Homo sapiens: one gene and its partners. The protein of the gene in region 7 purifies or fractionates together with the protein of the main gene of each other region. This does not show direct contact. Each region holds a gene or a part of one and is shown on either strand. Other genes may lie near its edges. The genes, in order: SETD1A, DIPK1A, CSGALNACT2, TMEM18, ALG9, RRP1 and CHST5.

The links.
Region 1: the proteins of CHST5 (region 7) and SETD1A purify together in Homo sapiens (affinity purification with mass spectrometry; one large-scale study listed by BioGRID and IntAct). This does not show direct contact.
Region 2: the proteins of CHST5 (region 7) and DIPK1A purify together in Homo sapiens (affinity purification with mass spectrometry; one large-scale study listed by BioGRID and IntAct). This does not show direct contact.
Region 3: the proteins of CHST5 (region 7) and CSGALNACT2 purify together in Homo sapiens (affinity purification with mass spectrometry; one large-scale study listed by BioGRID and IntAct). This does not show direct contact.
Region 4: the proteins of CHST5 (region 7) and TMEM18 purify together in Homo sapiens (affinity purification with mass spectrometry; one large-scale study listed by BioGRID and IntAct). This does not show direct contact.
Region 5: the proteins of CHST5 (region 7) and ALG9 purify together in Homo sapiens (affinity purification with mass spectrometry; one large-scale study listed by BioGRID and IntAct). This does not show direct contact.
Region 6: the proteins of CHST5 (region 7) and RRP1 purify together in Homo sapiens (affinity purification with mass spectrometry; one large-scale study listed by BioGRID and IntAct). This does not show direct contact.

Annotation. Positions count from the first base shown.
Region 1 is NC_000016.10:30,959,997-30,964,253, reverse strand, and holds part of SETD1A (histone-lysine N-methyltransferase SETD1A), read right to left. Parts: intron 2,988-4,257; coding exon 2,717-2,987; intron 822-2,716; coding exon 700-821; intron 161-699; coding exon 1-160. UniProt on the Homo sapiens protein: Histone methyltransferase that catalyzes methyl group transfer from S-adenosyl-L-methionine to the epsilon-amino group of 'Lys-4' of histone H3 (H3K4) via a non-processive mechanism.
Region 2 is NC_000001.11:92,846,254-92,850,510, forward strand, and holds part of DIPK1A (divergent protein kinase domain 1A), read right to left. Parts: intron 1,107-4,257; coding exon 930-1,106; intron 1-929.
Region 3 is NC_000010.11:43,176,186-43,180,442, reverse strand, and holds part of CSGALNACT2 (chondroitin sulfate N-acetylgalactosaminyltransferase 2), read right to left. Parts: intron 1-4,257. UniProt on the Homo sapiens protein: Transfers 1,4-N-acetylgalactosamine (GalNAc) from UDP-GalNAc to the non-reducing end of glucuronic acid (GlcUA). Required for addition of the first GalNAc to the core tetrasaccharide linker and for elongation of chondroitin chains.
Region 4 is NC_000002.12:670,634-674,890, forward strand, and holds part of TMEM18 (transmembrane protein 18), read right to left. Parts: intron 2,230-4,257; coding exon 2,175-2,229; intron 1-2,174.
Region 5 is NC_000011.10:111,833,201-111,837,457, forward strand, and holds part of ALG9 (alpha-1,2-mannosyltransferase ALG9), read right to left. Parts: intron 3,095-4,257; coding exon 2,965-3,094; intron 1-2,964. UniProt on the Homo sapiens protein: Mannosyltransferase that operates in the biosynthetic pathway of dolichol-linked oligosaccharides, the glycan precursors employed in protein asparagine (N)-glycosylation.
Region 6 is NC_000021.9:43,795,856-43,800,112, reverse strand, and holds part of RRP1 (ribosomal RNA processing protein 1 homolog A), read right to left. Parts: intron 2,692-4,257; coding exon 2,562-2,691; intron 2,483-2,561; coding exon 2,418-2,482; intron 2,207-2,417; coding exon 2,013-2,206; intron 544-2,012; coding exon 464-543; intron 1-463. UniProt on the Homo sapiens protein: Plays a critical role in the generation of 28S rRNA.
Region 7 is NC_000016.10:75,529,813-75,533,108, forward strand, and holds part of CHST5 (carbohydrate sulfotransferase 5), read right to left. Parts: 5' UTR 3,277-3,296; intron 1,829-3,276; 5' UTR 573-1,828; coding exon 1-572. UniProt on the Homo sapiens protein: Sulfotransferase that utilizes 3'-phospho-5'-adenylyl sulfate (PAPS) as sulfonate donor to catalyze the transfer of sulfate to position 6 of non-reducing N-acetylglucosamine (GlcNAc) residues and O-linked sugars of mucin-type acceptors.

The DNA of each region.
Region 1 (4,257 bases), about 45 Mb from region 7:
ACTGAGGTGTGAACTGGCCAAAGGAAGATGGGGTATCTTGTCGGCTGCTGGAGAAGCTTGTGTCCTGGGAGCAGGGGGTGCCGTTGCCAGGAGTGCCCACCGCAGTGGTGCCTGCTGGGTAGGCAGCTGTGTCAGAGGAAGAGCGGCGGCGGGATTCGGCCTAGAGCGACAGAGCAGGGCAAGGAGAGAGGAATGGGCTCAAACACCACTTGAGACCTGCCCTTTCCCAAACCAGGAATCCTAGTTCCCTTTTTTTTTTTTTGAGACGGAGTCTCGCTCTATTGCCCAGGCTGGAGTCCAGTGGCGTGATCTCGGCTCACTGCAAGCTCCGCCTCCCGGGTTCATGCCATTCTCCTGCCTCAGCCTCCCAAGTAGCTAGGACTACAGGCGCCCACCACCATGCCTGGCTAATTTTTTGCAGTTTTAGTAGAGATGGGGTTTCACCGTGTTAGTCAGGATGGTTTCAATCACCTGACCTCATGATCCACCCGCCTCGGCCTCCCAAAGTGCTGGGATTACAGGCGTGAGCCACTGTGCCTGGCCCCTAGTTCCCTGTCTTTTGAAAGCATCTCAGCAGCTTTGCTTGGCTCTTCTTTGTTTAACGGGAAAGCCCGGAACCTCCCGAAGACTGCTCCTGCTCCGGGCACCCGGACACCATGCCCACATGGCTAGGGGCTGTGGTAGCCACAAACTTCTCACCGTCTCAGTGGCTGCACCCGAGCCTTGGAACTTCTCACTCAGGGCCTTGCCCCCAGTGGGCACAGTCTGAGGGGTGTAGGAGCCATTGACAATTAGTTCATAGTATTTCATTCGTTGTTGTCCTGGAGGGAGGGAAATGGGAACCAATTGTCAGATGGAGATACTAACTCCTTCCTGATCTGGTATTCCTGCTTTCTCAGGCCTCAAGTTTCCTACAATTTCTTGGAATCTGGGTTTCAGGATTTCAGTTCTCCTACCATAACTCTACCTTTGGGACCTTCTACCTTATCTCTACCTCTAAACTACCACAAACAACATATTTTATGACACTTCACGATTTATCAAAAACACTTCTACTTATTTTACCATGTTGGATCACCAGAAGGGAAGCATCAGTACCTCTGTTCTAGAGGCTTAAAAGCGACCTACACAAAGTCACAGAATTGGTCATTGGAAAAATTGGAATTCAAACCCAGAGGCTCGATCACCCCATGCTCTTTATCCTGTAAACTAAAGCATGCAGAACAGCAACCGGGGGACTAACGGAGCCTGCAGGAGCTGTGGAGTGAACACCTCAGAAACACCTTGTGAGGAAAGAAACATGGTATTTAAAAACCATGAGATTTCACACAAAAACCCAAATTTCTGGCTTGAGTGCAGTGGCACGATGTAATCTCCACCTCCCAGGTTCAAGTGATTCTCATGCCTCAGCCTCTCGAGTAGCTGGGATTATAAGCATGAACCACCACGTCCGGATTTTTGTTATTTTTAATAGAAATGGGGTTTCACCATGTTGACCAGGCTGGTCTCGAGCTCCTGTCCTCAGGTGATCTGCCCACCTTGGCCTCTCAGAGTCTTGGGATTACAGGCGTGAGCCACCGCATGCCCGGCCCTGGCTTTCTTTTACAAACCAAATTCAAGAATGTTAAACCTCATTTCCACTTGCAAACTGGCCAGTGCCTACTAATGGCTGCCTCCTCCAGACAATACTGCAATCTGCAGCTCGCCACAGACCCCACTGCTCCCCATCACTCAACACAGAAGCCCAGACCACCTCGCTTGTGTTCACAGCTCCTTTACTCTCTATCTCAAATTTCCAAACCTAAAAACCCAGAAAATCCAGTATTTCTGAGAATCTGGCACCAAAACCTATATGGGTTATAGAATAGCATATAGAAAGATTAAAAAGAGGCCAGGCATGGTGGCTCATGCCTGTAATACCAGTACTTTGGGAGGCCGAGGCAGGCAGATCACTTGAGGTCAGGAGTTCAAGACCAGCCTGGCTAACAGGGTGAAACCCTATCTCTACTAAAAATACAAAAATTAGCCGGGCGTAGTGGCGCATAAATGTAATCCTAGCTACTCAAGAGGCTGAGGCAGAAGAATCACTTGAACCTGGGAGGTGGAGGTTGCAGTGAGCCAAGATCGTGCCACTGCACTCCAGCCTGGGCGACAGATTGAGATTCCATCTCAAAAAAAAAAAAAAAAAATTAAAAACAGGCTGGGCAGTGTAGTGAGACTTCATCTCTGCAAATAATCAAAAAAACTTTGGCCAGGTGTGGTGGTGCATGCCCATAATCCCAGCTACTCAGGAGGCTGGGGTGGCTGAGCCCAGGAGCTGGAGGCTGCAGTGAGGAAAGATCACGCCACTGCTCTCCAGCCTAGGTGACAGAGCAGGATCCTGTCTCAAAAACCAACCAAGCAACCAACCTGACCTGGGCTGATTTACTACAATCTATTCATCTTACCTAGTACAACCCTTCATATGATTTTTTTTTTTTTTTACAGATAGTTATGTGCTTGATTATGGCCTATTGCCCGACCTTGCTGGAGACACCACACACACAAAAATCCATGTACCATAATTCCACTCTAAAATCTGATCTGATTTCAGAAACACAACTGGCCCCAGCAGTTTCAGATCATGACCCTGGGCGCCTGCCTGACCCTGACAGGCATTTGCATGTACAACCTCCGCTGGAGGCCAAGCCTGAGTGGCAGGCAGAGGAGTCCTCACCTTTGATGTCAAGCTGGGCATGGATGATGTTGCCCATGACGGAGGTAAGGTGGAGGTTTTTGACCGTTTCCTTGGCGCCCCGAGTGCTGGTGAAGAGCACACGGGCCAGGCCCAGGTGCTTGCGCGTACGGGGGTGAAGGAGGATCTCTACCTCTTCCACCTCACCGTACTTACGGCACATATCCTTCAGGAAGGTCTCCCGCACGTTGTCATTCAGCCTTGCAAAAGTCACTTCCTTCAGTGGAATCTGTCCAATATAGAACTCGTCCAGCTGGGGAAAGAACAGGAGTTGGTATGGGGTCTCAACACTGACCACTGTTCCTTTGTCCTTCGGGAAACTTTAGCAAGCTCCATGAAGTCAAGAGAGAGATCCGGGAAAGTGAGGGGCAAGGGAAGGGGCCCAAAATAAGGGATCCATCAGACCTGACCCCTTTTCCCTGAATTCTTCTCACCACAGAATAACAGCAAGAATTAAGAACAGAAATGTGCAAACTAGGCCGGGTGTGGCAGCTCACACTTATAATCCCAACACTTTGGGAGGATGAGGTGGACGGATCACCAGAAGTCAGGAGTTCAAGACCAGCCTGTCCAACATGATAAAACCCTGTCTCTACTAAAAATACAAAAAAAAAAATTTAGCTGGATGTGATGGTGGGCACCTGTAATCCCAGCTACTCAGGAGGGTGAGGCAGGAGAATCACTTGAACCTGGCAGGCAGAGGTTGCACTAAGCCGAGATCACACCACTGCACTCCAGCCTGGGCAACACAGCGAGACTCCGTCTCAAAAAAAAAAAAAAAAAAAAAAAGAAAGAAAGAAAGAAATGTACACACTGAGGAATAAATATACGTGGAGAGAACGAGCTACAGGGCGATGATTTCCTAGCTCAGCCTTTACTAGGTAACTACCATGAACGAGGCACTGGAAATACAGAGATAGAAAGGAAGAGATTCCCATACAGAAAAGCAGCATGACATGCACATACAAACACAACACGACCCAGTGGCAGCTGACGCATACATGGTGTTCTGGAGCCCAGGGAAGGAAACTTTTGTACAGAGTATGATCAGGGAAGAATTCATAAAGATGGTGTCATTCTTACTGAGATTTGGGGATTAACAATTCATCAAATGACAAGGACCCCTGGAACATGGAAATATAAAACAACTTGGTGTTTTTGAAAAACCGCAAAGCGTTATGGTGTGGATGTAACACAGGGGTGTGGTGTCAAGGCGGAGGATAAGGCTTGGCCAGGTCAATAACCATACATGTCAGTGTCCCAAAACATGGACTTGGCAACAAAAGGAAAACAGCAGCGTAGTGAAGCCAAAGAGACAAATGACAGCAAGGCAGAGGAGAAACTGAGGCAAGAACGAAGGCAAGGAGACCAGGTGAAATGAATACCAAGGTCTACATTAAGTGGCAATGAGAATAGAAAGATGAAGAATAAAAAAGAAAAGAGCCAGGAGGATTCGGTGACCAACTGAGAGAGAAAAGGAGAGAATCACAGGCTGCCAGGCTGTACAGCTGAGTCGATGGTAC
Region 2 (4,257 bases), on a different chromosome or scaffold from region 7:
ATTAGCATATTTATGTCTCAGTTATCATTGTGTTGTGAACATTCACAATCCTTTTAGTTTTTTGAAAATAACCAAAAATTATTAATCCCTTTACCCTATAGTGCTATAGAACACTAGAACTTATTCTGCCTATCTAGCGGTAATTTTGTATCTGTTAACCAACCTCTCCTTATTCTCCTCTCCTCTGTACCCTTCCCAGCCTCTAATAGCCACAATTCTAAGAGTATACTCATTTTATTTCACCTTTTTTGAATTAATTTTCATGTCAAACTGTACAGCACTCCAATTAATTAATGAACTCCCTCCTCATATCTGGACATTTTTAGCTATCATAAATAATGTTAAAGTAAACATTCTCCAACACAGATTTCTTTTCTTTTTCTTTTTTTTTTTGAAACAGGGTCTCACTTTGTCGTCCAGGCTGGAGTGCAGTGGTGAGATCTTGGCTCACTGCAACCTCGACCTCCCAGGCTCAAGCAATCCTCGCACCTCAGCATCTCAAGTAGTTAGGACTACAGGCACATGCCACCACTCCTGGCATATATATATATATATATATATATATATATATATATATATATATATATATGTGTGTATATATATATGTGTGTATATATATATATATATATACACACACACGTATATATATATATACGTGTATATATATATATATATAGCTGAGGTCTTACTATGTTGCCCAGGCTGGACTTGAACTCCTGGGCTCAAGTGATCCTCCTGCCTTGGCCTCCCAAAGTGCTGGGATAACAGGCGTGAGCCACCACGCCCGGCCTCTTATAATTATTTCCTCAGGATGGAGAATCTGATAGAGGTCAAAGAATATCAACACTTTAATGGCTTAGGATGAGGTCCTGCCAATTCCTCTAAAGAGTCCCACTTCACACTAGCAACATATGAATGGGTATGCTTACCTTAAAGAGACTATAGACCATTTCTTTAAATTTTTGTACAGTAGTTCCTCTAGTTGGCTTATCAAATAGCACTATTTCTTTTCTTGGTTCCAATTCAGTTCCAAAATCAAGATGAAGCGCTTGTTCCATTTGACATTTCACAACACCTGGTAGATTATCCCAAATCCCTAAATACATCTATGTAAAAAAGAGTGGCAAGTTATGTATTATACTGAGTAGAAAACTCTAAAAAATATACTACTATATTTTTAGGGTCCTCCTCCTCTGAACAAAACAAAACAAGCATCAAACATTGAGGTTAAGGTGTGACTTTATTTCTGAACTGCAAACTTGAAATCACACTCAAGATTTTTTCCTTAAACTAATTTTTTAAATTATAAGAGTAATGCATGCCTAAATATATTTTTCAAAAAGTCCAATGAGAAGGATGTAAGGCAAAAGCAAAGTTCCCAGACATTCTACTTCCATAATCCCACTTCCCCAGAATTAACTACTATTTAAGTATCTAGTTATTTATCAAACTAATATTATATAGTGTTAACTATGTCCTATGGTCTACTAATTTATTTTAGAGACAGGGTCTTGCTTTGTCACCCAGGCTGGGGTTCAGTGGCATAATCATAGCTCATTGCAGCCTCAAAGTCCTGAGCTCAAGGAATCTTCCTGCCTCAGTCTCCCAAGTAGCCAGGACTATAGGCATGTACCACTAAACCTGGCTAATTAAAAACATTTTTTGTAGAGATGGGGTCTTGCTGTATTGCTCAGGCTGGTCCTGAACTGCTAGCCTTAAGTGACCCACCTGCCTCAGCCTCTCAAGTTGCTGGGATTGTAGGTATGAGGCACCACACCTGGCTTTTACTGATTTATGTTATTATTTTAATCCTTGTACCAATCTTAGGTGGTAGGTACTATCATTATACTTATTTCACTGATGGGGAAACTGAAGCAGATACAGGTGAAGTAACATGCTGAAAAGAGCTGAGGTCTTTACCACTAGGATAGGTTGCCCCTCTTCTACATAAAAAAATAAATAAGATCATATTCATTCTTAATATTAATCCAAAGAAAACATTATTTCACTGCCTTGCTCCAAACCCTCTAATAAATTCCCCTTTCAATTAAAGTCCAAAGTCCTTTCCATGACCGGTTGGGCTCCATTTGAGCTAGCCTCGCCTATGTCTCCAACCTGATCTTGTACCACGTACTCCGTTTCTCAAAGTCCCAGCTACACTGGTCTTTCTGTGACAGGTTGAAGCTTGTTTCTGCTTCCTGACCTGCTTCACTTGCTGCTGGCTCTGCCTGGAATGTACTCTCCCAGATCTTCACATGGCTGGCTCCTTTACATCATTCAAGTCTCAGATTAGACATTGCATTTAGAAAGCCTTCCCTGACCCCCTGTCTAGAAGAGATCCTCTTCCACCCCCAGGTCACCTCTAACCCTGTTTCATTATCCTCATAGCCTTTTGCACTGTCTAAAATTATCATATTTATTTATTTATCAGTTCATTACTATCTGTCTCATCTCACATTAGAACATGAGGCCAGAGGCTTTATCTGTCTCCCTCAGTGCCTCAAACAGTGCCTGGCATGCAGGAGACACTCAAATGTTGGACTTTGTTTTAGAAATTGTCTTTAACATGATTAATACTGTCAACTGAAAAATTAGTTTAAATTTCTATAATAATAATGCATATTTATATAGGAAAATTTAGGAACCATAAGATGAACATTAAAATGCAATTTTCCACTGCTCCAGATGTTTCGTTGTATTTTCTTCTACCCCAATTAGATATTCTACTGTTTTATTCTTATTTCTCTGATGAAAAGTAAGGTAGAATTTTTTTTCATTATGTTCATCAGCTGTTTGCAGTTCTTTTGTGATTTAGTTCATCCTGTCCTTTTCCCATGCCTATGAATTTTTTATTAAGGTATAAGTTCAAATATTATTTCAGAAAGGTCTTCTCTGATCACATCCTCTAAAGCACTTCTCACCATCCCTTACACTGCATTCTCTATCAATTTGCCCTCTGTGTCTCCTACAGAACACACCATATTCTACAATTATTTTGTTTGTTTATTTATTTATTTATCAACTGTTTGTACCTCCTGTCCCTCTGGAATCATGTAAGGTCTGTAAGGGAAGCAATCTTGTCTGGTTTTTTTTTGTTTTTTTTTTTTTTTTTGAGACAGGGTGTCACTCTGTCACCCAGGCTGGAGTGCAGTGACATGAACACGGCTCACTGCAGCCCTGACCTCCTGGGCTCAAGTGATTGTCCCACCTCAGCCTCCCGAGTAGCTGGGACCATAGGTGTGTGCCACCACACCCAGCTAATACATATATATTTTTTGAGACAGTCTCGCTCTATTGTCCAGGCTGGAGTGCAGTGATGTGAGATCTTGGCTCACTGGAACCTCCGCCTCCCAGGTTCAAGCGATTCTTGTGCCTCAGCCTCTGGAGTTGCTGGGATTACAGGCATGTGCCACCACACCCGGCTAATTTTTTGTGTTTTTAGTAGAGAGGGGGTATCGCAATGTTGCTCAGGTTGGTCTTGAATGCCTGGCCTCAAGTGACCTACCGCCTCAGCCTCCCAAAGTGCTGGGATTACAGGTGTATGCCACTGTGCCTGGCCACCCAGCTAATTTTTGTATTTTTTGTAGAGACAGGGTTTTGCTATGTTGCTCAGGTAGGCCTCAAACTCCTGGACTAAAGCAATCCACCCACCTTGGCCTCCTGAAGTGCTGGGATTACAGGCCCGTGCCACGGGCCCGGCTGTTTGTATTTTTTTATTTTTATTTTTTATTTTTTGAGACACTCACTCACTCTGTCACCCAGGCTGGAGTGCAGTGGTGGGACCATAGCTCACTGCAGCCTCAACCTCCTGGGCTCAAGCAATCTTCCCACTTCAGCCTCCTGAGTAGCTAGAACCACAGGTGTGTGCCACCACACCTGGCATTTTTTTTAAATTTTGGAGAGACAGGGTCTCACTACATTGCCCAGGCTGGTCTCAGACTCCTGGGCGCAAGTGGTCCTCCCATCTCAGCCTCCCAAAGTGTTGGGATTACATGCGTGAGCCACCGCACCAGGTTGCCTTAATCACCATTGTATTCCTGGTAACTGAAACAGCATCTAACATCAAAGTGCTGACAGAAAAAAAAAAACAAAACAAAACAGTGTCTGGAATATACTGGGGATAGATTAATAAATATCTTTTGACTGGCCAGGTGTGGTGGCTGACATCTATAATCCCAGCACTTTGGAAGGCCAAGGCGGGTGGATTGCTTGAGCTCAGGAGTTCGAGACCAGCCTGGGCAACATGGCGGGACTCTG
Region 3 (4,257 bases), on a different chromosome or scaffold from region 7:
GATCAAAAACACTGCGAAATAAATGAATGCCTTAGATGGGTTCATTAGTAGACCGGACTTAGCTTAAGAAACAATCTCTGAGCTTGAGGATATGACAATAAAAATTTCCAAAACAGAAAATCAAAGAAAAAAAAAGACTGAAAATAAAATGAACAAAATATCTAAGAACGGTGGGACAACTACAAAAGATGTAACATATGTATAATGGGAATACCAGGAAGAAAGGAAACAAGGGAACAGAAGCTCCAAATAAAGAGTCTAAGTTCTAAACAGGTGCAGCTCTTTTTCACCCAGCCCACAGCAACAGGGTGGAGGCTCCACTTCCAGGTGTGGCCAGCTGAGAATACTGGGGGTCCTCCTGCCCCTACCCAGTGTCCTGCTCATAGGGCAGAGGTGGTCACTCTGCTTAATAAGTGTGTCACTGTCCCCATCCTCAGGGCAAAACCTCATGGATTTTTTCCCCCGGGGGAGAGGAAGTCCATAAGAACAAAGTGCTCCAAAGTTCTTCCCTAAGGAACTGACTTTATTTAAAATAGAATGTAGAGAAGTTCAGAGTTTAGAGAAGTTCCAGCCTCTTGAAAATAATGGAGATTTTGGTAGTAAGCAATTAAGAGGAGGCTGGTAACTCCAGGAGGGCAACAGCTAAACTGTAGGCCAGCTAATTTACTAGAGAGAACCACAGAGAGAGATAGTAAGAATATACCTCCTGGGGTCTGAACAAATCTCAAAGACTTGCTGCAAAAACTATCCCTGCAAAAGGGCCCAATTTAGTAGGGACAGATTATGGAGCAATTTATGCCCCAGAGCATTGTCAAAAACAAGACAGCAATTAGTGAACAGTCAGTGGAGTCTAATAGGAGTGATACCAATGGAGGCATGGAAAGAGATAAAGAGAGCCCTGCTAAATCCAATGCCATCCTAGGATAACTGCACAGGCCCTGAGGAGCAACAGCAGAGGCTTCATATTGCCAAAAGGTCGGGGAAGGAGGAAGAAATAATTTGTTAAAATAGTCCAGCCATGTCAATAAATAAATAAACAAGGAAAAAAAAAAACCAAGCCGTGGTGGTAGAGGGAAATCAGTATCCAGAGTTGCCACAGTGTATTACCTAAAATGTCTAGTTTTCGAAAAAGAAATAATGAGGAATGCAAAGAAACAAGAAGATGTGACATACGCTTAAAAAAAAAAAAAAAACCGGCAAGCAACAAAAACTGCCTGTGTTAGGGCCCAGACATTAGCTTTAATACACAAAAATTCCAAAGCAGCCATTGTAAGTATGTTCAAAGAATTAAAAGAAGTCACACTTAAGGAAGTAACAGAAGATGACAATGTTTCATCACATAGAGTATTAATAAAGAAATTATATATATATCAAAAGAACCACATAGAAATTCTGAAGTTAAAAACTATAGTAACTGAAATAAAAATTCATTAGAGTAGCTCAACAGTAGATCTAACAGAAAAAACAATCAGAGAACTTGGATAGATCAATAGAAATTATGCAATCTGAAGAACAGAGGGAGAAAAGAATGAAGAGAAATAAACAGAGCCTAAGAAAAATGTGGGATACCATTAAATGTACCAACATACATACAGTGAGTGTCAAAGGAGAAAACTATGAGAATGGAGCAGAAAAAGTATTCAAAGAAATACAGTCAGCCCTCCATATGCATGAGTTCCACATCCCATAGAATCAACCAACATGGTTCAAAAATATTAGGGAAAAAAACGATAAAAAATAACAATAAATATAAAAATTTAAATACAATATAACAACTATTTACATAGTATTTACATTGTATTAGGGTTTTTTTTTTTTTTTTTTGATGGAGTCTCACTCTGTTGCCCAGGCTGGAGTGCAGTGGTGCAATCTCGGCTCACTGCAAACTCCGCCTCCCAGGTTCATGCCATTCTCCTGCCTCAGCCTCCCAAGTAGCTGGGACTACAGGCGCCTGCCACCACGCCTGGCTAATTTTTGTATTTTTAGTAGAGACAGGGTTTTACCTTGTTAGCCAGGATGATCTTGATCTCCTGACCTCGTGATCTGCCCGCCTCGGCCTCCCAAAGTGCTGGGATTACAGGCGTGAGCCACCGTGCCTGGCCTGTATTAGGTATTATAAGCAATCTAGAGATGGTTTAAAGTATATGGGCAGATATGCACAGGTAATATGAAAATATGTATATTTACATAAGGGACTTGATCGACCATGGATTTTGGTTCCACATGGTATCCTGGATCCAATCCCATGCAGGTACTGAGAGATGACTATAATGGCTGAAACTTCCCAAATTTGATGAAAAACATTAATGTACATATTCAAGAAGCCCAAGAAACTCCATAACCCAATTAAAATGGGCAAAGGATCTGAACAGACATTTCACTAAAGATATACAAATGGCCAATAAACACATCAAGAGATGCTCAACAACATTAATCATAAGAAAAATTATAATCAGAGTCACAATCAATACCACATCCACTATCATGGGTGATACTAGAAACAAAAAGATAATAACATGTATTAATGAGGATGTGGGGAAACTGGAACTCCTAAACACTGCTGGTGGGAATGTAAAATGATGCAGCCACTTTGGAAAACGGTGTGGCAATTTCTCAAAAGGTCAAACACAGGATTACCATATGACCCAGCCAGAGTCCTGGGCATATGTCCAAGAGAATTGAAAATCTATGTCCACCCAAAAAGTTAAACACAAATGTTCACAGCAGCAGTATTTATAATAGCCAAAAAGTAGAAACAACTCAAATGCATATAAACTGACAAATGGAGAAACAAAATGTGGTATAACCACACAATAGAACATTTTTTGGCTATAAAAAGGAATGAAGTACCTAACATGTCACAACATGGATGAACTTTGAAAACATTATGTGAGTGAAAGAAGCCAGTCATAAAAGGCCACATATTGTACAATTTGCTTTCTATTAAATTCCCAGAAGAGGCAAATCTATAGGAAGTAGACCAGTAGATGCCTAAGTTTGGGGGGAAAGAGGGTTGGTAGGATGTGAGGAGTGATTGTTAATGGGTATGGGATTTCTTTTTGGGGTGAAATGCTCTAAATTTGATGGTGGTGATAGCTACATGACCTGGTTAACCGTACACTTTAAATTAATAAATTTTATGATATGTAAACTATATCTCAATAAAATTGTCATAAAAAAGAGATAAGGAACTCAAAGCATTCAAGATACTGAAAAAATGTACACAAATCTATTTTTGAGGAATAGTGAAATGCTGCTTGCTTAACTAAGCAAGAAATCAAGGAAAAGAGCATCAGTTTAATTTAACGCCCCTTTTATTGTTATTTCCTGATTTTCCATTATTCAAGTGTTACAATGATAAGGAGACAAGGTGGGGGGATTTCCAAAACAAAAGGCTGGTTATAAAAACGAATGTGATATGGACCTAGAATGTATATAAAATATATTCTATGACTTCTATGCTGTAGAAAGGTAGCTAGCCCTAAATGAATCAGAAGACATGGAATCAGGTTTCAGCCTGCTTTATTAAACTATTCTTTGACACTTTATATTTTGCTGGGTAAGACTGAAGCTAGGGGCTGGGCATGGTGGCTCACGCCTGCAATCCCAGCACTTTGGGAGGCCAAGGTGGGCAGATTGCTTGAACCCAGGAGTTCAAGACCAGCCTAGGCAATATAATGAAGCTCCGCCTCTACAAAACAAACAAAAAAATTAACTGGGTGTGGTGGTGCACGCCTGTGGTCACAGCTACTTGGGGATTGAGGTAGGAGGATCGCTTGAGCCTGGGAGGCAGAGGCTGCAGTGAGCCAAGATTGTGCCACTGCTCTTCAGCCTGGACAACAGAGCATGCAGGATAGTTAGAACAAATTATTCATGGGCCATCTTTAGGCTTAGGGGAATGCATGACTAAGGTGTGATTCCAAGACGCGCTAGAAAGAGCAGGTCTTCTTTCATTTGTATTAAATACTGGGATTTTGTGTAACAGTTCACTAGACAAGTAAAGGAGGTTTCATCTCAAAAAAATGTGAAAGTCCTTGGTCTAGATAACCAAGATTACTCCCAGCTGTAACAACCCATGGGCACAACAGTAAAGTTATAGAGAAAGCTTTTGTAAGACTACTCTAAACACCTGCAACTATGGGTAACAAGTTAAACAGATATTTTTAAAAACAGGTGTTTTGATTTTAAAGGAACAAGTAAATATTATACTTTATTTTTATGACCATTTTTTTCCTATTCAAAACATTAATTATAAAC
Region 4 (4,257 bases), on a different chromosome or scaffold from region 7:
ACCATGGGAGGCCCAGAAGTAAGAGGCAGCCAGTCCAAGCATGTGGCGAGTGCTGCTACAGAGAAATGTGAAGCCTGTCGGGGGTGAGGGGGCCTCGTGGAGTCGTAGGCACAGCCATGAACGGCTGGGACAGAGCTGGCAGGAGGCCGCAGGGCATCACTGCAGGACTCCGCGTTTACTCTGGGGGAGCTGGGGACACTCTGGAACGTTCTGAGGGGCAGTGCTTGGCTCTGAGGCCCACGCTTCCCCAGGATGCCCAAGAGGCTGGGCAGTCGGGGGACGGCTTAGGGACCGCTGCATGTCAGCAGCGGGTCGGCGAGGGTGGGGTGAAGGGCATGGAACACACTGGGCTCGTGGCTGATCTTAAAGGTGGAGGGACGGAGCTTCCTGAACAATGCCCTGTTACGTCTCTGGTCTAAGAAGCTGGAGGGAGAAGCCGCCCCTACGAAGAGGGGGGAGCAGAGCAGTCGGACTGAAGTGTGAATTTTGAGATGTTTGTTAGACGTCCTGGTGCCCAGTCCAACAGGTGGGACAGGCAAGAAACCCAGCGCTTTTGAAACCAGGAGATCTCGGAGAAGCATGAAGACAGGAGGCTGCGGCCAGAGGGAAGGGAGGGGCCAGAAAGGTGCTGCACCCTGGAGCTGGGTGTGGGAGGGCTTCGGGGAGGATGACCCTGTGCCAGCCTCTGGACAAGGTCAGGGTCACCAGGGACTGAACACCCCTCCTGGGACTGAACCATGTGAAGGCCCTGCATCCGGGAGGAGAGGCAGGGTCCTCCTGGGACTGAACCATGTGAAGGCCCTGCATCCGGGAGGAGAGGCAGGGTCCTCCTGGGACTGAACCATGTGAAGGCCCTGCATCCGGGAGGAGAGGCAGGGTCCTCCTGGGACTGAACCATGTGAAGGCCCTGCATCCGGGAGGAGAGGCAGGGTCCTCCTGGGACTGAACCATGTGAAGGCCCTGCATCCGGGAGGAGAGGCAGGGTCCTCCTGGGACTGAACCATGTGAAGGCCCTGCATCCGGGAGGAGAGGCAGGGTCCTCCTGGGACTGAACCATGTGAAGGCCCTGCATCCGGGAGGAGAGGCAGGGTCCTCCTGGGACTGAACCATGTGAAGGCCCTGCATCCGGGAGGAGAGGCAGGGTCCTCCTGGGACTGAACCATGTGAAGGCCCTGCATCCGGGAGGAGAGGCAGGGTCCTCCTGGGACTGAACCATGTGAAGGCCCTGCATCCGGGAGGAGAGGCAGGGTCCCCAGTGAGCCGCTTATGGCTAAAGAGAGGGCAGGGAGGAGGGAGGGCAGAGACAGTGCTGCAGGGACGCTGTCGTGGAGGGAAAGGCTGAGCAGGGAGGAGCAAGGCAGGAGGAGGCCGAGTCAGGGGAGGGTTCGGGAAACCAGGCGGGGTCTAAGCAAAGGATTTCAGGGAGTGCTCAACAACCCCTTTCGGTGAGGGCCCAAGATCAGTGTTCAGGGCTTATGGGCCACAAGGCCACAGTCTCAGCTCCTTCCTGCTCAGGGTCTGGCAGTTTTACTTTTTTTCTGTTTTATATTTTAAAACGTAAAAGCCATTTTTAGCTCACAGGCCACTCAAAAACAGTCCGTGGGTCTCACTTGACAGAGGCTGTGTGGTTCAACCTGGGCAGGTGCTGGGTTCCGAGTCCCCTGGGATGAAGCCAGGGGTAGAGGAGGGGGCAGAGGACGCAGGGCCAGGGCTGCCAGCGGTGCCCCCCGACATCAGGATGTGGGGCTGGGGATGAGGCAGGCAGGTGCCCCAGACCACCCAGAAGCCCCCTACTCAGGTCCAGACTCCCCATGGAGCAGCCACCCTGCAGTCCAAGGGGGAGGGCATGGCTGAGGCCAGCGCGGACCACGTTCTCTAAAATGCTGCTGTTTCTATTCTGCAGCTCAAATTCCCATGGCCACTTCTCTGGCTCTGCCATCAGAGGCCTCAGCCAGCACTGTCCCACAGTGCCACGCTCAGAAAGGGCCACTGTGGCGCTGGTAAAGCATTTACGGAGTCACCCTGGAGCCCACCAACCCTGGATGCACGGGCACGGGCTGTGCACAGCTGCCACGTTAGGATTCACTGTCTCCTCCGCGAGTCCCACCGGCTGTGGGGCCATTCCCAGGGACACCCCTGCAGGGACCTGGTCACAGGCCCGGGGGTGGGCTCACCTCCAGTTCATCGCAGCCGCCTCATTGATGTATTCAGCACAGTAGACTAAGATGACTGAAAAAAGGTACAAGTCATATTAGAATTTAGATGGCCCGTTATTACTCGTTATAAAGTTATACATTCTTTACAGCAGAATACTGAATAGAAATGTCACTTTAATTTTAAACATAACATCAGGTAAACATCCTAACATTGTCAAGTCGTAGGACTCACCCATTTAGCAGAAAGAAAATCAAGGCCAACAGTGCTTCAGTTCTCCAATGCTCTATGGTCTCACTCAGAGCCCGTGCTCAGGTCAGCACCTGCAGAGCTACTGCAGGAGCCGCCCGAGGCCCCAGGCTTCACCCAGGCATGGCTGGACCTCACACATTTCCCCAGGGACAGCAGCCACAGTTCAGCCCCACAGAACACGGCAGCAGGAGCTGAGAGCCACGAGACCCAGAGCTGACAACCAAGGGCTTTTCACGCTCACACTTCCCGGGCTGACCTTGGGACACTGCCACTGAGATGACCATAGGAGGGGAGCGAACAGCTTTGGGGTGCTGGAGGCAAAGGCACGGGAGGGAGGGCAGCAGCTGGTGGGGGCAGGGCAAGGCCTCCATGCTCCCAGGAGCACACAGACTTTAGGGACTGGCCCAGGGTCTTCAGCTAATTCGTGGGTAATGCTGGTACTCAAACCCATGAGACAGTGACCCATGGTACCATAAAATCAAATAAAATATGATTCGGCAAATTAAGAAAAATGTGATGCTTCAACTTCCAAGGTAAATCAAACTAAAAATCCTTTCATTCTTCTTGATACACATCAGAAAGCAGATTAAACTAGGGGCTACGGTGAGCAGTCCCTCCACTTCCTCCCTTCAGGAATGGACTCAATAAAGCAGAGGAAAAGAATGCACAGGGAAAGAACCAGAGGGGAGGGGAGGGAGGAGGAGGAGGAGGAGGGGGAGGATGGGGGGGAAGGAGAGGAAGGAGGGGAAGGAGGAGGGCCAGGAGAAGCAGGACAGCCAGGCAGGTGAGAAGGGTAGGCTAACACAGGAGGTGGTGGGCATGGGTGCGGGGAGGAAGGTGTGGAGGGCTGACGTTACAGGGGGAAGGTGGGGAGGGTGGTAGGCACGGGAGGAAGGCGGGCAGGGAGGGTGTCACCAGGTGCTCCTCCTCAGCTATTCCTGAAATGCACCCTGGAGCAGAGTCTGAATCTTGAATCTTGATGGTGCTGGTTATAAGCTGTATAGCTGAGGGAGTTAGAGAACCTCTGCATGTTTCATTTATAAAAATGGGCAAATAAAATCCAACTCTTGGCTGGTTTGAGAAATGAATCACAGGAAATGTAATGGCAGGCAGCACAGTGTCTAGTATTACCCCGGTGTGAAAGCAGTCATCCTTCCCCTTATCCTAGAAAACATCAAACCCTTTGTGCAGTTCTCCAGCTGACAAAGCTATTCAGATCCAGGAGCTCAGCTGGTGAAGCCATCACCTTTCTTTGAGATGCCTGCCTCAGGGCCTCTGCGTGGGGCACTTGCTCCTGCCCTCTGCCAGCATCTCACTGCCTGGCTCCTGCCTATGCACCTTTTGCCCCTGGGTTCCCAGGGGACTGTGTGATTTAAATCAGGCCGCTCCTCCTGTTTCACTGTGTTTTTGGCTTTTCCATTGCAACACTTGTCACTGTTGATAACACAGGTCTGTGATGAATCACTGGTGCTGGTGTCCCCCAGGAAGCTGTGGGAGGCAAAGGAGCCCTGTCTGCCTGGTCCACTCCAGCACTCCTCAGGGCACCCTCAATACAGAGCTTGCTCTGAGCGCCTCACTTGCATAGGCCCCCACTGTGATGCAAACCCTCATCACTTCTCCAGTCTTTCTAAGATCATCTCTTCTTCAGATTTCCCGCTTTGCACACAGCCAGCTAACTAAACTTATCTGAAATTAGTTATTTTTAACTACCAAGCAAAATCTTCAGTGTCTCCCCAATGTTGAGAGTCAAGAGTAGCCTGAGCCAGGCCTCCAGGCCCTCCTCGCCTCTTCTACCCACACGTGTTCGTAACGCTCAGCATCAGAAGTGCTTAGGTCCTGGAGGGCTTGCAG
Region 5 (4,257 bases), on a different chromosome or scaffold from region 7:
AAGTGTATCATTCACCTTGAAATAGTGAACAAAAATGTGAATTTTTCAAGAACTAAAGAGGTGACACTGAATGTATCTTCCAAATTTAGATCTTGATTCTGGCAGAAAATCTTGGCAATCTTGGCATGTACCCCTGTAAATGCTTCCTGTTCAATAATGAGATATTCAATAGCTACTCAATACCTACCATGAAAAAATATGCAGCAAAAACATTATTTTTGCAATATAGTTATAATGGTACAGTACAAACCACAGAACCTTTACACTTATTCACTCCTAATTCTTGATTAGCCCAGAGGTAAAGAAAATAGTGAAATAAAAAAAGTCATACAACTTTCCTCGTTTCCATGCACAATAGAAACGGGACAGGCTGGAGCACTTAGCATTGAAGCCAAAGGCTGGCTAAAACCTGCCACCCAGAGCTAAAGGTCCATGCCTAATTTTCATGATTCTGCCACCACAGATAAGCAAAAAAATCCTCGCATTCAAAGGGCTGGACACAGCTGCTACCCAGCAGACATAAATCACTTGTTTTTCCCTGCTTTTATCAGCCAGCATTTTGGTGACTCCTACTGGCATCCTGAAAAATCATCACCTTTCGGGTAAAGCTCATATAGAGTCATTTAATCAAATTTAACACTGTCTGACAGCAGAGAATATGGAAATATGATCTAACTAAGACAACCAGTGATAAAAGCCTAAGAAATGTGCAAAAGGCCACTGTAGATTTTCTAGCCAGCTTTCTCTCAACATCATTACCACAATGACGATGAATATTCATTATCCACTGAGAAAGCATGTAAAAGTGAACTACTGGGTACATGACACCGTCCTAGACACTATGGTGAACACAAAAGAAACAAAGTGCAGTCATTCTCTTCATGGCATTCACATATTTGATGTGGAAAGATATGATATCAGAAATATTTAACTAAGACCAAGAAAATTAAATGGCTAAATGAACTGCACAGATAAATACTGAAGACACTTAAAGGAAGGTCTGCTCAATATGGACTTAAATAGTTCACTTCAAAGAGGAAGATAATTTTGATAGTGTGAGAAGAGACACAAGGGTAGTTCAGGCATAGTCACCAATATAAGCGAAGTCACTGGGGTGGAAAACGCAATGATGAGTCTGGAGACACTGGAATAAAATTACAAGGATGGGAAACAATAAAAAGAAGGAAGGGGAGAGATTGGGTTTCTTTACCTGGAATCTGTCTAATATACCATTATCAGATTAAGAACACTTGTGCAAGCATAAGAACATTGCATTTTTGCTACAGAGAGATATAATATCAAATATCATAATTCCAAAGTAGGTGCCATTTTACAGACAGAAACTGAAATTAAACAGAGAAGCTAACTAATTTGCCCAAGGTTATCAAGTTTAGCAACAGAGCTGAGGTTTGAATGCAGGCCTACTCAACTCCAAAGTCCACGCTCTTTTTTTTACTACTCCATTTTTACTACCTCTTCCTAAAGCAAAGCTCCGATAACATCACTCTGAATTCATACTGTCCCCCTATGACAGTGTATTTTCCCACCCTTTGACTGTCCAGCTTCTCTAGAATGATGCCCTGCACTCAGGAGACTCATATCTGCAGATAAAATTAAAATGACCTGTAACAGTCTACCCTGCCCAAGGGTATTTCCATTGTAACAGGAATCAGAGCCTTAAATTAAAAGAATAAAGCTCTAATACAATCCATGTGGCAGAAACGCCTGTCTTACAAGGGAACAGCTCAAGGCTGTGTCTTTAAGTGTCCATTTTCATAGCTTATAGTTACAGCTCATACAATAAGAATCTCACTCATAAACCCTGAGGGTCTCCATGGAACTCTAACCAGCCCCAATCTGGGAGACAAAAGACCAGATGTGGCTGCAGGTTTGCTTCAGAAGAGAATTGGAAGTCTTGCTATTTTACATTTTAAGCATATGACATAAGAAAATGTAAATTAAATATAGCTGACATTTAAACTGTTACATATTTCTTTAACGGACAGGTTATCAGGTTATCAAAAAATGTGCTTTCTAATAATTCTAGACAACGATCTTACACTGTCTTTGTGACCCAAAAGGAGCATTATCTTTATTACTTCTTACCTTTTTCATTATCAAAGATTTCACAGGTATCAAATGTCAAAAGTGTCATCTTTCAAAGGAACTGAAGTAAAATTCGCATGGGATCTCAGAATGTGTAAAGACAAGTAGGGAGAAGATCATGGCCCTGACAGAGGCTGCTCCCTGGCATTCAGTATGGAAACAGTCTTTACTGTTCATTTGTTAAAACCGGAATATACTAATAGCTAGGTCAAAGGTCCACCTGATAACTTGAAAGTTCCTCATTAAGGATTTTAATAGGCCAAGGAATGATATGAGTTTCAGAATAATGGTTCAAACTTCTACCGTAAGAAAACTTTCAGCCTACCCAAAACCTTCAAAATTAAATTATACATTTTACATAGAAAATAAAGAGGTTAATTTGAAAATAAAAGTGATACTGTTTACTGTTTTTCAACAAAAGCTGTTATACCCCTCATCCTAAAAAATATCCGGTTTTTTTCTGAGACAGGGTCTCACTCTGTTGCCCAGGCTGGAGTGCAGTAGCGGAATCATGGCCTACTGCAGCCTTGAACTCCGAGGCTCAAGTGATCCTCCTGCCTCAGCCTTCTGAAAGGCTGGGATTACAGGCATAAGCCACCACACCTGGCTTATTTTTTAATTTTTTGTAGAAATGTGATCTTGCTATGTTGCCCAGGCTGGTCTCGAACTTCTGAATTCAAGCAATTATCCCGCCCGTCTCCCAAAGTGCTGGGATTACAGGTGTGAGCCACAGCACCCGGCCTTAAAAAAATTGCTTTCTAAGAAATTCTCATTTTATCAATGCTCTAATATACACACCAACAGACTTTTAGGCATAGAATTCTTTTCAGAGAAGCAAGAAGAGAATGTAGCCCTTACATATCTGGATGGCTCTTCTAGATTCTGGTCATTCATGTCAGTAGGAACAATCCGGGTGGCCAGAGGTCCTTCTGCAAAAGGTTTTGGTAACTGACCTCTGAACTCTGATGGAATGAACTGAAGCTGCCAACTGTCAGAAACACAAGGAGAATAAGAAAAACACAGGGGGATAATATTGCTAAATGTACTTGAAACAAACAAGCCAGGAAAATCATGTGAAAAACATTTCTCTTGAAGAAAAAATATTTCTGCTAAAACCTCAACCAGGGAGCACAGAGGCAGAGGTCACAAGTCAGTCCAAAATCATTGAGAAATTTATAATTAGATGTCTCTTGACCCATTTCACCAACTGTTAGCAGTGAAATTCACAACCAAATGGTCATATCATCAAAAAACCAGAGAAGTGCCAATGCTTATTGTCAATTACTATGTGGGCAGAGAGACTTATCAAATAAAGCAAATTATCAGGTGTAGAGAAAAAGAATGAAATGTAATATATGGCACTGAGAACACACTATGGGAGAAATACTTTGTTCCGGAGTAACCCTCAAACATATCTTTATCTATAAAACTATTTCAAACGTAAAAGGCAAAGGCTAAAGTCAACACTTAAAAAACAAGTTTTAATTTAATCATTAATGACTGACACAGGGTCTTTATGAAGCATAAGAAACTACTACCCAGTAAAGCCAAGCTACTGAAGCCATTTCTCAAATGGAGCAACATGACTCATCTTAACCAGATTTCCCTTTAACCTACACAGGACTCTTCTCTGGCCAAATGAAGCAAACTACAAAGAACTTTAGGGCCTATGCTCTCAGAACCACAGAAAGCATAAAGGAAACTGGTATAGACATTTTAACCACAGCCTTCCCCAGTGTCCACATAATGGTGGAGAACTTTCACTACTGTTGGGTCAAGAATGTCTTCTCTCTTCTAGCTGGAGTTTCTAGACCACTTTTAGAAGAGGATTAACATCAGATCATTATAGAAATGTAAATATGAATCCCCACGAAGAGCCACTGGCAAAAGCCTAGGACCCAGGGCATTTTCAGAAGTCCCCAGACACCTGCAGTTATGGGCAGTGCAGAATGTCTACCTAGACCCAGCCCTCAGCCTAATAAGCCTAATGAACACAGGAGGCAGGTACACAGTACACAGGCCCCACAGCTCTCCGACGTGGTAGATAATTCAATAACTCTCTGTGAAAACTCCAAAAGAAAACAAAAATTAGAAGACACTGATATAGAACTGCTCTATTTACTCCTTCATTTAAAACCCTAGGAATTAAAG
Region 6 (4,257 bases), on a different chromosome or scaffold from region 7:
AAACTTAAAACATTTAAGTTTCCAATTTGCCTGAAGTCAGACCCCACTGGCTGAGTGGATTCCTCGCTGGGACCCACAGGCCAGCCGCTTGGCACATGCCATCTCATTCCCCACCAGCACCCCAACGAGGGGGCCGCAGGAAATCTGGGGGGCTGCCCATGTGTGAGGCAAGAGGACAGCGTGAGGTGAGGCCAGCCCTGGATAATGCAGTTCTGCCTGAGCCCACCCTCCCAGGCCCCAGCCCCACTTTCCCAGGCCCCAGCCCCACTCTCAATGATCCCACTCGTCTACAGGCGGGCAGGGTTGGGGCACCCATCCCTCCTTCAAAGCTAACCCCTGTCCGGGTAACTCTCCATGCCAACAGCTGCCATCCTCCCTCCTAACGCCCCCCTCCTCTTCCAGAGCAAGCGGTAGCACAGAGGGGCAAAGGCTGAGGGCACAGCCATGAGCCCAGGGAACCCACCTGGAGAACGGGGCCGCCACTGTCCCTGTCGTCACCTGCCTGCTCCTCACCAGCCTCAGGTTCAGCCCTGCAGATGGAGCCTGGAACAAAAGGGACCCCGTGAACCCTACCTGTGCCCAACGTGTGCTGGCCCCAAACATCCAGGAATGGAGAGCCCGCTCCGTGCACCCTGGTCGGAGCACGGGCACAGGCGGGAAACACCCGGGAACGGACAGCCCACCCTGCACCCTGGTCAGAACATGGGCACAGGCGGGAAAGCCCACAGCTCAAGGCAGATACTAGGTGCCATGTGACCTCTAATCTCGTATGGACAGGATGAGAGGTGCCACCTCAGGCCTGCAAAGGAAAAAAAGATGTCCCAGGGCACAGGTGCCTACACAGCCCTGAGTGGCTGACTACAAGCTGGCATCTTGGGCAACAAAGGCCATGTCAAAAGTTCTGGAAGTGAGGAGCCTCAGGGTGGCCTGGTCCAGAAGCTGTGGGAGCTGATGTTTCGGCTGGGTGCTCGAGCTAGGCTGGGCATTTGGGGCTTTGATGGCACTGTCTGCAGAAGAAAGGTTTTTGGGCAACAGGCAGCTGTGGGGCAGCATGTGACAAGGGTCTGCTCTGTAGCTGGCAGCAGGGGGCCAGCAGCAGGCACTAGCGGACCTGCCAGGCACCTCAGCTACTGAGAGAGAAGGGCAAGGCAGAGACCAGGGAGAAGCATACAGGGTGGCCGGGCCAAGTGCTGGGGGCGGTGGGGAGGGGGTCTTCTGATTAGGAAGCCAAGGGGAACAGTGGCCACAGCACTGATTTGGGGCATACTGGGGTCCTGAGCGTGGTCAAAGACATGCCCTCCACAGCACCAGGATGCCACACTTAGAGCTCAGACCACCCAGCAGGCTCGGACAATGAGTGCAGCATCAAAACAAAAAATGGGCCAGGCTGGACCCCACGGCTGCCCACAGAGGCCTCTGGCAGGCAGTGAGGGGCAGGTGAGTACACCTGCCCCTCACACACACTGCACACAGAGCAGTCAGGTGCCCTGAGGTCTCAGGCCTGAACCCAGTCATGGTCAATATGGACAGAGCTTGCTGTCCTCTGGGGAGACGGGCCAGGAACGAGGAACACGAGGAGCAAGTGATTCACATCCCGTGCCACAGAGTGACGCTATGGGGAGGACTGCGTTGGGGGCTGGGAGAGGCCAGGAGGCTGAAAGAGTCCAGCCCCAGAGAGTGATGGGGGGAGAGACGGTGGGAGGGACGGAGAGACTCGGCACCAAGGCAGGAACGAGTCTAGGGGGCCAACTGAGCCAGAGGCATGCGTTAGACCGAGGAGCCCAGGGGTCCGGAGAGGGCGTGGAGCACATCAGAGGCTGGGGGATGAGGGGAAACGACGTGTGCTTGGTGCCCACAGAAGTCACTCTGGCTTCTATGCTGAGGATGGACTGTGGAGAGGGGCAGAGACAAGGGGACCAGGTAGGAGGTGGCAGGAGCAACCCAGCAGGAGATCGCACTGGCTCAGCCCAGGACAGGCCCCGAGGAGAAGCCAGGCGCAGTGTGACCCCCACCTGCGGGCGGCTTCTCAGACCTCTTCTGGGACAGCGCGTCTCCACGCTCACCACCCTCAGAGGACTCATCACTGTCCGACGCCACCTCCTCATCCTGTGTGTCCAGTTCATTCAGGAGGTCTTCAATGGCAAGCGGGGCCTGCTCCACAATCGTCTCAAAGATGCCTCGAGTGATGTTGTTCAAAACCAAGGAACTGAGGGGCAGAGCAGAGGCCGGTGAGCAGGCCCGTTATGCTGGATTCCCAAGCGGAAGCCGCCGACTCCCCTGCAACCTCTCCCCACCCACACGGCCAGCGGCCACTCTGAGACAGATTCATCCCTCGAGGGAGCAGCACCCCCACAACAGCAGCCCCATGGAAGAACTCAGTGAAGGAGTCGGGCCCGATCAGGCCACCCACCACTTACTCCTTGGTCCGGGCAGCAATTCTGCAGAAGGGGTCGATGAACTTCAGGTTCTGGTCTGCCGTAAGCTACGGGGAAAGCCAGCGGGAGCTCAGTTCCTCCTCCACAAACGCCCAGCTCCACCGCCCCGTCGGAGCCCAGCCTCACCTCCTCGGCGCCCACTTTGGTCAGCTCCTCCAGGAAGATCTCGATGAAGTGGCTCTTCACACCGTTGGGGGCCTGGCTGCTGGGGTGCAGGATCTCAGTCATCAGCAGCTCTAGCAGCTCCTCGATCTGTCTGAGGAAAGAAAAAGCAAACATGACAGGCAGCCTCGATGAGCCCCAAGACAGCCGTGCCCCCCACTCTCCCATGGTTACACGCTCTGATGGGAACCTAAGTGCGGGCAGGCGCCACTGTCTGCAAACATGCCAGCCTTAAAGTCCACGCAGATGATATCAACGATCCTAGGTCTCCTCCAGCGCAAGGCAGTCTTGCAGTTAGGGAGTTATGTGACCAGCACCACCACCAGAACGTATGGCCTGAGTGTGCATGTCAGCTACAAAATGCAGCACGTGTAAACATTCAGACAGGCCTTCCCTCTGTCCTCAAGATTGCTAGCAGAGAGAAAGGCTTGGCTGAGACGAGACGCCCTGCCTGGTGTTCCTCTCCACTGCCTCCACTGGGTACCGCTGGGGAAGACACGTCAGGACAGCACAGGCAGAGAAAGGAAGGTGGAGGCCCAGAAAGGGGCCGAGGACCATGAGCCACCTGCTGGCTTCCTGGGCCCTGCCGCACGACGCATTCCAACTGTGACGTCCACCAGAGCTCTCCCTGGCAGGCGGGTTTGATGGCATCACAGGCCCTGGATCTGAAGACTAGACAGCCCCAGAGAATAATGTGTAGCACCTACATGCATCTGGACCTCCTGGGGTGCTTAATAACGCAGCTGCCTAACTCAGATCTGTAAACTGTGTGATCCTTAGGAAGCTCCGTAGCAAGGCTGGAGAATCACTCGTGATGGAAAGGAAAAGTGATGCTCTCTAAGGCTCAGGAAAAACGAGACAGAGGCAAGAACAGGTGCTGAGACCAAGAGGAAGACACACAGATGCAAGGGACCGACTTCCCAGGCCAGTGGCAATGGCGTGGATATTAATGACAGCCTGGTTATGCCTGCAGGAGATCCAAGAGGGCGGGAAGAGCGGACCCCACTGTCAGCACTGGGACCGCAGCAGGCATTGGGGGAAGGCACCGAGGTCTTCCACATGATTCCTGTGCTGAATTCTCAGTTACAGGGAGAAAAGTACTCTTGTAATAATATGCCAAAAAAAGTTAACACAAGTAAAATCATCCCTTTAACATTTAATTCAGCTTAAGCCATGAGACCCCTATGGGGTAATCCACAATGCTAAGGCCCAGAATGAATGAGACTCCTGGCATCAGAGTCCTGCCAGGGAATAGAAGAATGAAAATCCCTCCAAACCAGAGGCACCGCTGCCCTAAATGCAAAATCACCCATGCAACTCAAACCTAGAGAAACTCAGCAGCCACAGTTCAATTCCTGCTGATTCTTTAAAAAAAAAAAACAAAAAACCAGAATCTCACTCTATCACCTAGGCTAGAGTGCAGTGGCTCAGTCACAGATCACTGCAGCCTCAAACTCCTGGGCTCAAGAGATCCCCTTAACCCACCATAACCAGCCTGCTAATTCTTTTCTATGCATTTATCTAATTTTTGTACTTTTAGTAGAGACACGGTTTCACCATGGTGGCCAGGATGGTCTCGATCTCTTGACCTTGTGATCTGCCCGCCTCGGCCTCCCAAAGTGCTGGGATTACAGATGTGAGCCACCGCGCCCAGCCAATT
Region 7 (3,296 bases):
CTGTAGGAGCGGCAGGCCTCCCGGGCCAGGCTGAATGGCTGCCGCGTGCACAGTGTCTTGCATACGTCCTGCTTGCTGATGGTGCCTCGGGGAAAGGCGCTGCAGGCGGGCGGCGAGCACAGCGCGCGGCTCGTTGCCCAGTTGAAAAAGGCGGACAGGTTTCGGCTCTGTGGCATGTAGGCATCAAACACGTCCATGTCGCACAAAAAGATAGAGCGCATCAGGTCGCGCACGGCCATGTGCAGCGTTGCCGCGCTGCCCTGCGACAGGGTGGTCCACACATGCCACGCGGGCTCCATCAGGTAGAAGACGTCGGGGTGCTGGCTGAAGAGCTGGCCCAAGAAGGATGAGCCCGAGCGCCACGAGGACAGCACCAGCACGTGCACACGATCCTCGCCGCCGGCTGGGGATGAGGGCCCTGGCCGGGAGATGATGAAGAGCAGGAGGCAGGTGGTCTGTGCCAGGAGGAGCACTGTCACTGTCTTGCTGGAGAACCGTGGCAGCCACATGCGGGCGGCTGGGGGCCTTCGGGTGGAGTGGGCAACTTTAGGGACCCGGGCCCTCATGCCCATCCCATGCCCCAATTACTGCCCAGTGCCCTCAGGGATCAGCCCTCAGATTCGGCTACCCTACCCATTGGACTTCCCAAGACTCCCAAGGTCTCAGTCGAGCACTTTCCCAGGAATACGGAGTCAAGACATAGGCCAGAATATAGTCTGTGCTCACAGCAGAAGTCCAGTTGCAGAATAATGTGGGATATCATCAAACTGTCTACCTACCCACCCACCCACCTACTTACATACCTACAGGCTATCTATCTGTAGAGAGAAATACTATGTTTCAAAGAGAACTCCTGTCTTTTGCTTCAGGATACCTCTTAGAGAGACCCTTTTAGGTTGTGGAGCTAAAAGGGCTTGATGGGGGCTTCGGTGGATGTCAGAGCACCACCAGGCTCGCCGAGGTTGAATCCTGGCTCTGCCACTTCCTAGCCTATGATCTTGCTTATGAAGATCACTTAAATCTCTCTGTGACGGATCACTTTACCCGTGTGTGAAAGAGGGATAATTCCGGTACCTGGCTCACAGGATCTGGGGGGATTGGGGGGTTATTATAATGAAGATGGGGGAAGGGAACACGCAGTCATGCCCATAACTGAGGATTGCACCTTTTACAAGGTGTGCTTCTGTATTATATAATTTTTTTAACAGGCAGGTATAAAACTTTTGTCAGCCAGGCGCGGTGGCTCACGCCTGTAATCCCAGCATTATGGGAGGCCGAGGCGGGCGGATCACGAGGTCAGGAGATCGAGACCATCCTGGCTAACACAGTGAGACCCCATCTCTACTAAAAATACAAAAAATTAGCCAGGCGTGATGGTGGGCGCCTGTAGTCCCAGCTACTCGGGAGGCTGAGGCAGGAGAATGGCGTGAACCTGGGAGGCAGAGGTGGCAGTGAGCTGAGATTGCGCCACTGCACTGCAGCCTGAGTGAAGAGTGAGACTCCGTTTCAAAAAAAAAAAAAAAAACAACAAAAAAAAAACTTTTGTCATTAAAGATAAACAAGTAAATAAAGTGGACAAAGAACAGCAACTGTTGTCATCACTGGTGGGGAGTGAAGTGCTGTAGGCAGCATGGGCTCCAGAAGGAGGGTGTCCTGGAGCCCTGTGGGTTTGCAAGAAGATCAGTTGATGGGGAGCTGGGATGGAGCCCAAGAAGCAGAGAGGTGAGAGCAGAGTACTGTCCTGGCCAGCTGAGGGGACTCACCACCGTCCAGGGCTGCTGGGAGAGCTGCAACGCTGATCACAAATCCATGGGAGATGTCTCGACATCTGGCAAAGCAGGAAGGAGAGGAGATCAGAGCCCTACAGAGAGACAGCCCTGTACATAGAAAGCTCCCCAGGGTGGGAACAGAGCTGTCCTGCCTGCCTTTTGCTTCAGGATAACTCGTAGAGAGACCCTTTTGGGTTGTGGAGCTAAAGGGCTTGATGACGGTTTAGGCGGATGTCACACCACCACCAGGCTTGCTGAGGTTGAATAAGTCTGAGTAGGGCATTTCTCCAAATGGCTGGGAACTGGCGGGGTCTCCTGATGGATGGAAGCGAGAGAGCTGGCTCCAAATCCCAGCACTGCCAATGGGGAGCTATGAGACCTGGGGCAAGTGACTTAACTTCTCTGAGGCTCAATTTGCACCTCTGTAGAATGGGATTTGCAATATTTAACCTCTTAGAGCTGTTGTGATGGATGCTGCTGCAAACACCTATGAGGGGAGGGCCTGGGGAAGCATTCCTTACACACATGCCCCTGTTACTGTTACTGTCCCTGTGCTGAGCTACATCTGGAGAGAAAGAACCCCCTCCACCTGGTGAGTCTCCCCACAGAGGAGACACCCACAGGCCACCTACCCTTCCAATCCCTGTATCTCCCAGGCCATCCTCTGGCGTCCAACCACCCTGAGCCTTTAGTGGACCTTAAGAATGTCACGCATTTCTCACAGGGTGGAAGGAACACTGAGCCAGCCTCCCGCATTCCAAGGTCCTAAAGTGTTCTTCTGTTTGCACCTGTTGCATCTGCAATGATCTCAAGGCTGGGTGACTTTGGAAGGGAGGAGCCTGGAAGTTTTCTCCTTGCTCCTGCATCCTTTGCTCCTTGCCTGCCCCCTTCCCCTGTCCACACTGCCCACTGAGAGAAGCCAGGGTCTAACTTGTGAGCAGATCTCACCTCTGCTCCTTCGCCTCAATGCGGGGACAGGAGTGAGCGGAGGATGCCCAACACCTCTGTCACCTGCTGACTCCCGAGCTGCCTTCTGGATCCCCACACCCACTCCTGGAAAACCTGGAAGATGAGGAGAGTAGCCCCCCACCTCCGCTACAAGTGCAACTGTACTTTTTCCAGTGCTGGCTGATGGATGGTGAGCTCCCTTGCCAACAGAGTGCCAGAAAGGAAGGGAACTCATATTTGCTGACTTCAATGATCACAAGTGCTAGGTGCTTCGAGTCCACTGGATAACTTAACTCTGGGCCCTGAGGTGGGCATGATGATGTCAATTTTTCAGGTGAAAGACTCAAGGCTTAGAGAGACAGCAAGAAAGCTGGGACTCCAGGACTCCTGTTCCGAAGCTCCTGGCACTTCTGATCCCAGGCTGTGGGCCTCTCCCACCTGTGATTGCCCCCTGCAGAGTGCAGGACCCTGCTGCTCTGGCCCAAACACAGTTGTCCTGGCCAGCCCAGCCCTTCCCTGGGTAGGGAGGATCTTGATCCCAAGCTAAGGTGTTTGTTACCTGTGTTCCAGGAAAGCCAG